3 linked regions of the Homo sapiens genome follow. The protein of the gene in region 1 interacts with the protein of each later gene in a pairwise test. Each region holds a gene or a part of one and is shown in the gene's direction. Other genes may lie near its edges.

Region 1 (3,651 bases):
ACAGCCCCTGGGATCTCCAAGCCTGGGGAGGTACAGAGGACAGGCAGCAATGTGAACACATGATGTAGAATGCTACTGGTGAAGTAGTTGAGGACTGCCCAGGCACAGTGAGGTAGAAGAGTGCTCAGATAAGGATCATAGAGGAAGTCAGACTCTGACTGAGTTTGAAGCTTGTGGGAAGCCTTTCGAGACCATAAGGAAAGAACTAACACTGCTTTTCTAGCCACAACGTCAAATGCCTAAGGCATTGCTACATTTGTTAGGGGTGAAGAGAGTTGGTTTCCCCTGGGTGTGTCCAGGTAGGGCCACAGAGGGAGAGGTTTGCATTTGCAGATGTCTCAGGGTTCTCTGCATCAGGGCGGTCAATACTCTCTCCCTGACACTGCCTGTTTCCTCTTGCTCCCCAGGCTGGCTGAGCACCTGCGGAGGATCAGAGCGGCTGTGGTGCTCCAGAAACATTACCGCATGCAGAGGGCCCGCCAGGCCTACCAGAGGGTCCGCAGAGCTGCCGTTGTTATCCAGGCCTTCACCCGGGCCATGTTTGTGCGGAGAACCTACCGCCAGGTGAGTAGCCACTCTGAGGGCCTCAGGGCTGCAGATTCAGAACTAAAGTGGCAACAGATGAATTACTGCCAACGTGAACCTCTGTCAAGCACTCCCAACTTTTTTCTAAATGCTTTCACATCTCTGCTCTCACCAAATCCTTTCTGAAGTCCCACAAGGTAGGAAGGGTGTGCATACTGTTGTCTTAGTCCATTAAATGTTGCTATAACAATATCTGAGGCTGGGTGATTTATGAAGAAAAGAGGTTTATTTGGCTCACAATTCTGGTGGCCAGAAAGTTCACAATTGAACATCTGCTTCTGGAGAGGGCCTCAGGCTGCTTCCACTCATGGTGGGAGGTGGAAGCCGGTGTGTGCAGAGGTCGCATGGTGAGAGAGGAAGCACAAGAGTGGCTCTTTTAACAAGCAGCTCTAATGAGAACTAACAGTGAGAAATCACCCTTGAAGAAGGGCATTTATTTGTTCATGAGGGATCTGCCTCTATGACTCAAACATCTCCTGTTAGACTCCATCTCCAACATAGGGGATCAGATTTCAACATGAGTTTTGAAGGGGCCCAGCATCCAATCATGGCAGTTTTCACACCCCTTCTGATACCTGAGTTGCTCAGAGAAGCCAGGTCACCTGCCTGAGGGCCCAGGCCAGCCAACAGCAGGGCCAGGTGACCCACCTAGGGCTCATTCACACTTGAGGGCAGGCGGTGGTATTGGGCATCATCAGGTCTAACTCCTCCACTTAACGGATCAGGAGCTTGAAGCCCAACATGGTGAGGTCAGGAGGGAGGCCCCGACCTCTTCCCTGCCAGGTTCTTGCTCTTTGTGTTGTTCCAGTGAAGCCAAAACCCTTGGGTTCAGGAGCCCCACATCAGGACACATCTGTTCAACCAGGTAACACCAACACATCTGAAGCACAGAGCTGACTTGAAACACGAATTGGAAGGAAATGTCTAAAATGGTTTTCTTTTTCATTAAATGAACATCTGTCTCTTCTATGATCACAGAAGGTGTGATTTTCTAAATAATAAAAGTAAAGCACGAAATTGATAATAATAAAAATGTGGTCAGGGTGGAGCACACCCTGGTGTAGTATGTAGAGAAACCCAGGCCATTGGGAGAAGGTTCTGTGAGTGTTCTTGGGTGATGGGTGGCGTTGGTGTGCTGCTCCCATGGAAGGGGCAGGTGATGTTTGGGAGTTTCTCAGCAGGGGCAGCATGTGCAAAGAGTGAGCACTGATGTGGCTCCCAGCTCTGTCACTCATGGCTGTGGCACTGTTCATTGCTCAGCCTGTTTGCTTGTTTACTCATTTATTCCACAAACATTTATTTTACCAGGTATTAGGGCGAGCACACTGATGATGCTTTCATATCCTGAGTGGTTTTTTAACTTGGTAGAAAAAAAAAAACAGTGAATTACACACCAAGTTTGTAATTATAAGCCATTAGCCTGCTGTGGACACTCACTGAAGTATCTCACTTCCAGCTCAGTGCCACCAGGAGGGGACCTCCACCTGGTAAATGGGTAGAGAGCAAGTGGATGATCATTAGGCCCCTACAACCTTGAGGTTTTCAGACTGTGGTTTCCTAACCCATAAAACAAAAAGTAAAACAAAGCTGAAAAGAGTTTGACAGCTGATTCCCTGTGGATATGTAGGCGCAGAACCTCGCTGAAATGTGTTATAAAACAACCACCAAAGCCTTAGATCTTAGGGGGCACATTGTCTGTGTAACTCCTAGAACCAAGGCTGCCCTGGCCTCTTCCCTCCACAGGCAGTGATGTATGCTTCCTTCACTCCTGTCCTGCAGTGCAAACCCACAAGATGTGTATCCTTGTTTCCCGCCAGGTCCTCATGGAGCACAAGGCCACCACCATCCAGAAGCACGTGCGGGGCTGGATGGCACGCAGGCACTTCCAGCGGCTGCGGGATGCAGCCATTGTCATCCAGTGTGCCTTCCGGATGCTCAAGGCCAGGCGGGAGCTGAAGGCCCTCAGGATTGAGGCCCGCTCAGCAGAGCATCTGAAACGTCTCAACGTGGGCATGGAGAACAAGGTGGTCCAGCTGCAGCGGAAGATCGATGAGCAGGTCAGTGTCTGCAGCTCCCTACCTGGGTGTCGGGGGCTTGGGTACTGGAGCATTTTGAGAGAGCCCACAGCTTCCTTGAGGAACTGCACATGCCGAAGACCCGAGGGAGCACAGACGTCCTCAGACCACAGCAGATACTAACTGTGGCAGGCAGATCAGTGACCCCTAAAGATACCCTCAGCCCTGGGATCTGTGAGTGTGTTACCTTATATGGCAAAAGGGACTTTGCAGATGCAATTAAATTAAGAACTGTAGGATGGGAAGAGTATCCTGGGTGAGCCAGGTGAGCTTGATATAACAGGGGTCCTCCTAAGAGGGAGGCTGGAGGATCAAGTTCAGAGAAGAAGTGATGACAGAATCAGAGGTGGGAGGGATGCAGGCAGCCTTGAGAAGCCAGAGAAGACGAAGACATGGACTCTCCCCTAGAGCGTCCAGAAAGAATGCAGCCGTGCCAACCCCTTCAGACTCCTGACCTCCAGAGCTGTAAGATAATGATTTATGCTATCTTGAGTCATAACTTGGTGGTAACTTGTTGCAGCAGCAATAGGAAACTGACACACTAGCCCAAGGTGCTGGTGTTTTGCCCTTGCAGGGGTGACATAGGGTAATGCAGCAGCAGCTGGTGTGCATGGAGGGCTTGCTGTGTGGGGTATGGGGCTGGCGCTTTGACTGGAGTAGCTTGTCTAATATAGCGGCCCTCCTACGGCAAGTATTACCATCCCCCTTTTTGTACAATTGAAGACACTGGAAGGGCACATGGCATCCTAAAGTCACACAGGTGGCAGTGGCAGGGCCGAGGTTTGAACCCCAGCTGTCTGGCTCCAGAGCCCATGCTCTGCATCACTTTGCCCTTCTGTCTCTCTGTCTGCCTATCTGTCTGTCTGCCTCTTTTGGAAAGAGTGTTTGCTTTGGAAATCAGAATTCAGTTCTTCTGCTTAAAAGTTGAGTGGCTGATGTGACTACTCTGAACCTCTTTTCTTATCCATAAAATGGGGCTGACAGGGCTGAA
Region 2 (3,651 bases), on another chromosome or scaffold:
CAAGCTAGGCTTGAACTTCTGGGCTTAAACCATCTTCCCACCTTGTCCTCCAAAGGTGTTAGGATTACAGGAGTGAGCCACTGAGCCTGGCCTAAATGTGATCTTAACATTTAATTTTTGCTTATGTTGCTAAACTGCCTGGGGAAAGCTGCTTCATCCTGGTTGGATTTACCAGTACTCCTCCCCCTTGAAGCTATGTCAGAAGGAATCAATTATCTCTTTGATTTTTAACCTAAGGTCAACAACTGTTTTGAATTTATCTTTATGACTGCAACAAGTAAGTGGCATAAGGATGTGCCACCACTACCAAGAGTCAATCTATTGAGAAATCAAGTTATTCCTGTGCCAACAGGTTATTTTAACAAATATCATCTTAAAGTGTTATTTCCCATTCTAATTTCCAAAAAAAAATACATGAACAAGAAATGGGAAGCAACAACAGTTAACTTGTGAGTCAGCAGTATCCTGATTTTCTTCGAAGAGGTTGTGGTTATATTAACTCCTTTCTTGTTTGTTTCCTGTTCTTAACAGCTGTTTGATGATAAAGTGCTTCCAAGAAACAGTACTCCCTCAATTGTTTAAATTGTTTTGATCTACCTAGTGTACTTTTCCCCTAAAATTCATGATGAAATGGTAGAGTAAATCTATCTATATCTCTCTCCCCAAGTTCTGTTTAACTAGATAATTGATTATCCTCAAACTAAATATCCATGTCTATGTGCTGAGGTATTAACACATGATTCAATATGATATTAAGGTAAAAATGGAATAAATAGGCTGAGATAGCTGAAAGACTTGGGCTGCCTGTGTTTCGAGGAGCTATTTAGTTTTTGTTGTTGTTTGTTTTGTTTTGTTTTTTGAGACAGAGTCTCCCTTTGTCACCCAGGCTGTAGTGCAGTGGTGCAATCTCAGCTCACTGCAACCTTCACCTCTGGGGTTCCAGCGATTCTCCTGCCTTAGCCTCCATAGTAGCTGGGATTACAGGCAGGCGCCACCACGCCTGGCTGATTTTTTGTATTTTTTGTGGAAACGGGGTATCACCATCTTGGTCAGGCTGGTCTCAAACTCCTGACCTCAGGTGATCCGCCCACCTCAGCCTCCCAAAGTGCTGGGATTACAGGTGTGAGCCACCACGTCCGGCCTCAAGGAGCTGTTTTCACAGAGACAAACTTGTTCCATTGGTTAAGCAGCTGAAAGGAATGGATTGTCTTCTAGAATTTCCCAAGATAAACCTTTCCTCTTACCAGTGAGGAACAATTTTACAAATAGAAATTAATATTGCTGGTGTGTAGTTTCCCACAGAATATTTTTGTTACATTTTTATGGGGTAACACATGACAAATCCTATTCATGTAGTTTAATAAGCAAAATAAGCCTAAGAGATTGAGCAAAGGTTTGCTGACCAGTGTCCATACCCTACAGGTAAGTATTATTTACTTAATTTTTATAGGCCTGTTATGTGCTAGGCACCATGGTAGGTGTTGGGAATATATTGGGTACAACTTTCAGTTTCTGCTTTTATTTTTGAAATGCTAAATATTTTTCTGAGTATTTGAGATATTTGAAAAAGACACCCAGACAACATCCTGGTGTGTTTTTCAACACACAATAAAAAGGTACGACAAGATAATAGAAAGCTTTTCTGATTATTGAATTTAGGAAAATACATCATTCGCTTTAGAGTGAGTACCAAAGACTTAAGAAAAGTTAAACATTGGGAAATACAGTAAATTAAACATCTAGAAAAGACTTACCAGTTTTCAGCCTTTAGTCATAGCATGCTTTGGTCTCACTTGAGCATTGTAATTCTAGAGTAGTAAGTATTTTCACCATTTGGGCTTGTTGATTGTAATTGTGGGCTCCTTTCTACTATTTCTGTTCTAAACAGAGGGGATTGTTTGGTAAGGTAGGTGTCCCTCTTTTTGTTTATTTTTCCCTCCCAACAGAGAAAGTGCTAAATAAGTAAAGATTATTTTAAATGTTTTTCATTAACTTATAAAAACTGCCTAGATCATTGTTTTCCCAGAGAATTAAAAACCTTACTCCTATATGTAAATGACTTTTTCAAGCAAATAAGTTGGTGTGGAAAAGTCAGCATCTACCATTTTTTTTCTGTGGTAACAAGTGTATCATCAAACATTGAAACCTTTTGGGAATGTTTAAAACCTTCTCTTGAGGGTAAGTAAAAATTCAAACTGGGAAGAGAGTCTTCCAGCCTTGGCAGAGATACAAATTTAGTTTACCTTGTGAAATCTAACACTTCAGGATATTTCCATTGTAATTTTGTCATTACGGAACATAAGGCTTTTTTCTTTGTAACTTTGTGCATCTTTTGAATGTTGACGTAGCAGATAAGATAGCTATAGGACATGACCACATTTTTCTTTTAGAAGACTGGTTGATGTGAATGGCTGACATAATTGATTTTATTTAATAAATATCTTTTAAAGTCACAGATAGTATTGTTTTAAAAATCAAATGGTATAGACGGACTTACTATGAAAAGCATTAGTCATTTTCTGCATTTCACCCTCTTTCCTCTGCTACTGGTTTTGCTCTGTCACCCAGACTGGAGTGCAATGGTGTGACCTCGGCTCGCTGCAACCTCCACCTCCCAGGTTCAAGCGATTCTCCTGCCTCAGCCTCCCAAGTAGCTGGGATTACAGGCGCCTGCCACCACATCCGGCTAATGTTTTTGTATTTTTAGTAGAGACTGGGTTTCACCGTGTTGGCCAGGCTGGTTTTGAACTCCTGACCTCAAGTGATCCGCCCACCTCGGCCTCCCAAAGTGCTAGGATTACAGGCGTGAGCCACCGCGCCCGGCCTAGTGTCAACGACTTTTAACTTTATTTTTAGTACTGCTAGTGATGCTCCGTATCTCTTAAATATGTTACTGCAAAAAGAAAAGAAAAGAACAGAAATATGTTACTGCTGTTTGTTGAATAACTTTAGACATCTATTGACTTGAATGTAAATGAACTAAATACTCGTGTATACCTCTTTCCTTCTATAGTTTTCACTGTTTTGTTGCATTGTTAACCAGTTGATCTTTACCTTACCTCAACTTCTATTTCTTACTCCATCACCAGAGGGAGTATCTCTAGATTTCTTACTTTTAAAATGAGGATATTGGACTCACGTGATTCCTTGGAAAAACTAAAACTAAAGTTCATGGCATATGTTAAAATACGTAGTTGCATAAAAGGGCATTCACCAAGTTCAGTGTTTGAAAACATATGCCGAGCTATATGAGAAGGGCATAGTATAGATATGAAACAAATCAAAAGATTGCATAATTCATTTACGGGACAAGTTATTGAATAGACTTCTTTAAGTGGCTCAGGAATTGTGGCATCAAACTATTGAGAAGGAAATATGAAAGACAGCACACCACCTGACTCTGCTGAATCATGAGTTTAAATATTATTGATTTACTATTATTTACGGTCTAGAATCAACCTCTATCCAAGGGACAGAAAATTTAATTATGAGTCTGTAATAAAGAACATTTTTATTTCTTACCCCACTTCAAATTTTTTAATATAATCCATAGTATGAAATATATTTTCAATCATAACCTGAGATACTATACATGCAACTGAAAACAAGTATTTTCACTGAACAGTATCCTTACTATAAACAGTATTTAAC
Region 3 (3,651 bases), on another chromosome or scaffold:
CCACTGTTCTCTGGTGCCGCTGAGGCCTCCCTTCCAGAGCCTGCAGCCGATCAGGCACCTGTGTCTTCTCTCCCCGCGCAGGGCATCATGCTGGTCTACGACATCACCAACGAGAAGTCCTTCGACAACATCCGGAACTGGATTCGCAACATTGAGGAGGTGAGGCCCTCCGGCTCCTCCCACTGTCCCTGCTTCAGTCCTTGTCCCAGAGCCCTCTGGTTTACTCATGAGAAGGCCAAGGTGCAGAGACACATACAGGCCACTTGCCCACAGCCTCCTAGTCAGGGACATGGTGGGAGCAGGGACTGAGATGCAAGCAGCCGGCCCCAGGGACCACACACTGGCCTGGCCCCACCCCGGAGCCCCTCGGAGCCCATCCCTCCAGCTAGGCTGTTGGATCTGGCCAGTGTCATGGTTATAAGAGAAAGGATATCCAAGCTTGTGGTCACCATGAGTGTTGGGTGCTTTCTAGAGAAGGAAGGGTCTAGCACAGGTGTGACCCTTGTAGTTGGAGGGTGTGGTGAGCAGGCGTCAGTTGTACTTTGAGCTATATCGGAGCAGGGTGTGACCTGGTACAAACGACCTGTGTTCAGACCTTGAACCATAGAGCAGTGAGAAGTAGGCCAACCCCTCCTCCCCTCCCAAAGCCAGCATCTTCATCTTCTGCTCCCCAAAGAGCTGACCTCACCCCCAAAGCCTTCCTGGCTGCCGGCACCTGCAGCTTTCTATAACTAACCATGTGGGGCTTCAGGTCTGAGGCACAGCCAGAGAACTTTTCCCATCTATAAAACCACAGCAAAAGGGCATATCACTGTCCACCCAGGACTCATGGACCTCCCAGGCCAGGCCGAGAGGCCACCCCATCATTTGTGAGTCATTGCACTGGGCTCACCTCCCCAGTGACCCTGAGAGGGCTGTGCTGCCAAATTTGCCAGTGCAGGGCTGCACCCCAGCTGGGAAAGCTGTCTTCATCCGTGGAGAGGAGGAGAGCCTGGTCTTTGTGAAAGGTCTCTGTTTCTGGCCAGCGGGCAGGAGCCACCTTCTGGTTCATGGGAAGTGAGGCAGGGAGTGGCGCAGTAGGTTCCAGAGACCAAGTCTGAGCTGGTGGAAGAAGACAGCAGTTTCCAGTGTCCCCGTCCTCCAGGAAGCGTGGTCCGCTCCATGGGGACCCAGGGAGACTTGACGAAGGAGCTGCCTTTGGGTATGAGGGCAGAGTTTGGGCAACATCAGACAGGGTGGTGAAGTGCCTGCAGCTGGTGACGGCCTCGAGTTGCGACCACCTCAGGCACGGCCTGTTTCTGGAGCCCAAAAATAGTTGAAATGTCAGGGCCAGGCGAGGTGGCTTATGCCTGTAATCCCAGCAGTTTGGGAGGCTGAGGCGGGCAGATCACCTGAGGTCAGAAGTTTGAGACCAGCCTAGCCAACATGGCGAAACTCTGTCTCTACTAAAAATACAAAAAATTAGCCTGGTATGGTGGCAGATGCCTGTAATCTCAGCTATTCGGGAGGTTGAGGATCGCTTGAACCTGAAGGCAGAGGTTGCAGTGAGCCGAGATCATGCCACTACACTCCAGCCTGGGAGACAGAACGAGACTCCATCTCAAAAAAAAACAAAAAAAAAAGTGTCAAAGCAGAAGGTCCCAGGACAACAGCTGGGGCCTCTTGCAGAGGAGCCAGGGAGGGAAGGAGGAAAGCCAAGGTCGGGGGGTAAATATCTCAGCCTCACTCACCTCCCATAGGCTAGACCCGCCCAGCATCCCAGGTGCGGGGGCTTGATTGATACAGCCATAGAAGCTGCCAGAAAGCATTTCAGAAAATGTGCATTTGCTCAGAGTAGCAGCTAGAACCCTGGCCCCAGCCCTGGCATTGGCTGTGTGACATGGGGCCGGCTGCTTGGCCTCTCTGAGCTTCAGCTTGTCCCTTAGACCAGGCTGTACCTAGCAGTCCTGACCCCACCGCTCTGATTTCTGGGGACAGACTGTGTGTTGGCAGAGGCACCTGGCCTGTGTCATCCGGTCTGATCCCCCGTCTGTCCCCCTCCCTCTCAGCACGCCTCTGCAGACGTCGAAAAGATGATACTCGGGAACAAGTGTGATGTGAATGACAAGAGACAAGTTTCCAAGGAACGGGGAGAAAAGGTGGGCATGGTGGCACAAGGGGCAGAGGGCCTCGGGGTCTTGGGGTTCTTGTGCAGAGGCCTTCCCCTGTCCCTCCTCTGCCCCAGGGGCCTGAGACGAGTTGGTCACCCCAGTGGGGCACGTGCCATGGGATGACAGAAGCACACACCCAGCCGGGGCTTCTTGGGTGCACTCTGCGGGCATCTCATCAAAACCTACCATGGCCCCGCTCCAGACTTTCAAGACCACAGGAGCGGGGAACAGAGCCATAGTTTGATCCCAGCAGGTCCCCGCCACCCTCCCATCTCAGCTGCCATCCCCAGCAACTCCATGCCCTGTGAGGCCCTGTGGAGGGGCATTCACTATAGAATTGAGGGAGTGATCCAGGAAGTCACGCCCACAGCCCCAGCCCTGTTGCTGCTCCCTCTTGGCGCCGGCCCTGCCTTCAGCTCCTGTTTTAGGCAAGCTCAGATGCGCCCGGCGGCTGGTGTGCTCATGCGTGTGCCTCCCTCTCTCACAGCTGGCCCTCGACTATGGAATCAAGTTCATGGAGACCAGCGCGAAGGCCAACATCAATGTGGAAAATGTGAGTCCCGGGCCCTGCTGGGAGACATGGGGCCTGCAGGATCGGCCCCTTCAGGCTAAAGGGGGAGCTGGCGTCCTCCGAGGAGGTCCTGCCAGACGGACCAGCCTCGGGCTCAGGGCTGCCAGTCAGTCCTCTGAGGGACATTTCCTGGGCAGTGCCACGTGCCAAGCACAGGCAGCCCCTGGGAATGTGCCATCAGCAGGGACAGGCACCACAAAGGGCACCTAGGACGCATCTCACGGGCTCTTGGGCAGCCCTGGGGAATAGGCACGGTTTTACAGGTGAGGAAACTAAGGCTCAGAAAGACCCAGCTCTGTGTTTACCCTCTCAGCCACACCACTCACCCTGGAGAGGCCCCTGTCAAAAAAGCCCAGACATAGCAGGGAGCCCTGATGGGACCTGGGCCCATGCCACCCTCCCCTCTCCACGGGGCGACCCCAGCCCTGCGGCCGATCCTGTGATGTTTCCCCATCCTAGTCATGTTTCCAAGGCGGATCTTCCATATCACTCCCGACCTAAAGTCTCTATGCTGACGTGAAGACAAAGGCTAGACTCCTTGCCTGGCGTGGAAGGCCCTCCCTCACCGGCTACAGCTGGTGTTTGCCACCCAGGGCTCAGGCCTTGCCCTCCCCAGGCCACCTGGGCTGCTCCCTTCTCCAATACGTCACTGCATTTCCCTCCTGTGTGCCCCTTTTTCTGCCTGCCAGGTTCCCTTTTCTAGTCAGGGCCTGGCCCTGGGGGCCTCTCCCCAAGAACACCTTCAGTCTCCCCTGGGCCTTCCTCCGCACCCCAAGCCACTCTCCTCTCCAGAACCTCCCACATCATGGGGATGTATGTTGGGATCACGCCTCCCGCCATCTCTGTATGTCCCCTCCTCAAGGCTGTGACAGCAGCTCAACCCTTGGCTGTGCTGGGAGATGAACCTGCTCCCGCTCCCAGCCCTGCCAG

The links.
Region 2: the proteins of MYO5B (region 1) and BNIP2 interact in binary tests that used the Homo sapiens proteins (3 or more experiments, as listed by UniProt).
Region 3: the proteins of MYO5B (region 1) and RAB8A interact in a two-hybrid assay, tested with the Homo sapiens proteins (one study listed by BioGRID).

The regions. Positions count from the first base shown.
Region 1 is NC_000018.10:49,901,585-49,905,235, reverse strand, and holds part of MYO5B (unconventional myosin-Vb), read left to right. Parts: intron 1-407; coding exon 408-564; intron 565-2,402; coding exon 2,403-2,642; intron 2,643-3,651. UniProt on the Homo sapiens protein: May be involved in vesicular trafficking via its association with the CART complex. The CART complex is necessary for efficient transferrin receptor recycling but not for EGFR degradation.
Region 2 is NC_000015.10:59,682,709-59,686,359, reverse strand, and holds part of BNIP2 (BCL2/adenovirus E1B 19 kDa protein-interacting protein 2), read left to right. Parts: intron 1-3,651.
Region 3 is NC_000019.10:16,125,389-16,129,039, forward strand, and holds part of RAB8A (ras-related protein Rab-8A), read left to right. Parts: exon of another isoform or gene 1-81; coding exon 82-159; exon of another isoform or gene 160-1,599; intron 1,600-2,048; coding exon 2,049-2,138; intron 2,139-2,637; coding exon 2,638-2,703; intron 2,704-3,651. UniProt on the Homo sapiens protein: The small GTPases Rab are key regulators of intracellular membrane trafficking, from the formation of transport vesicles to their fusion with membranes.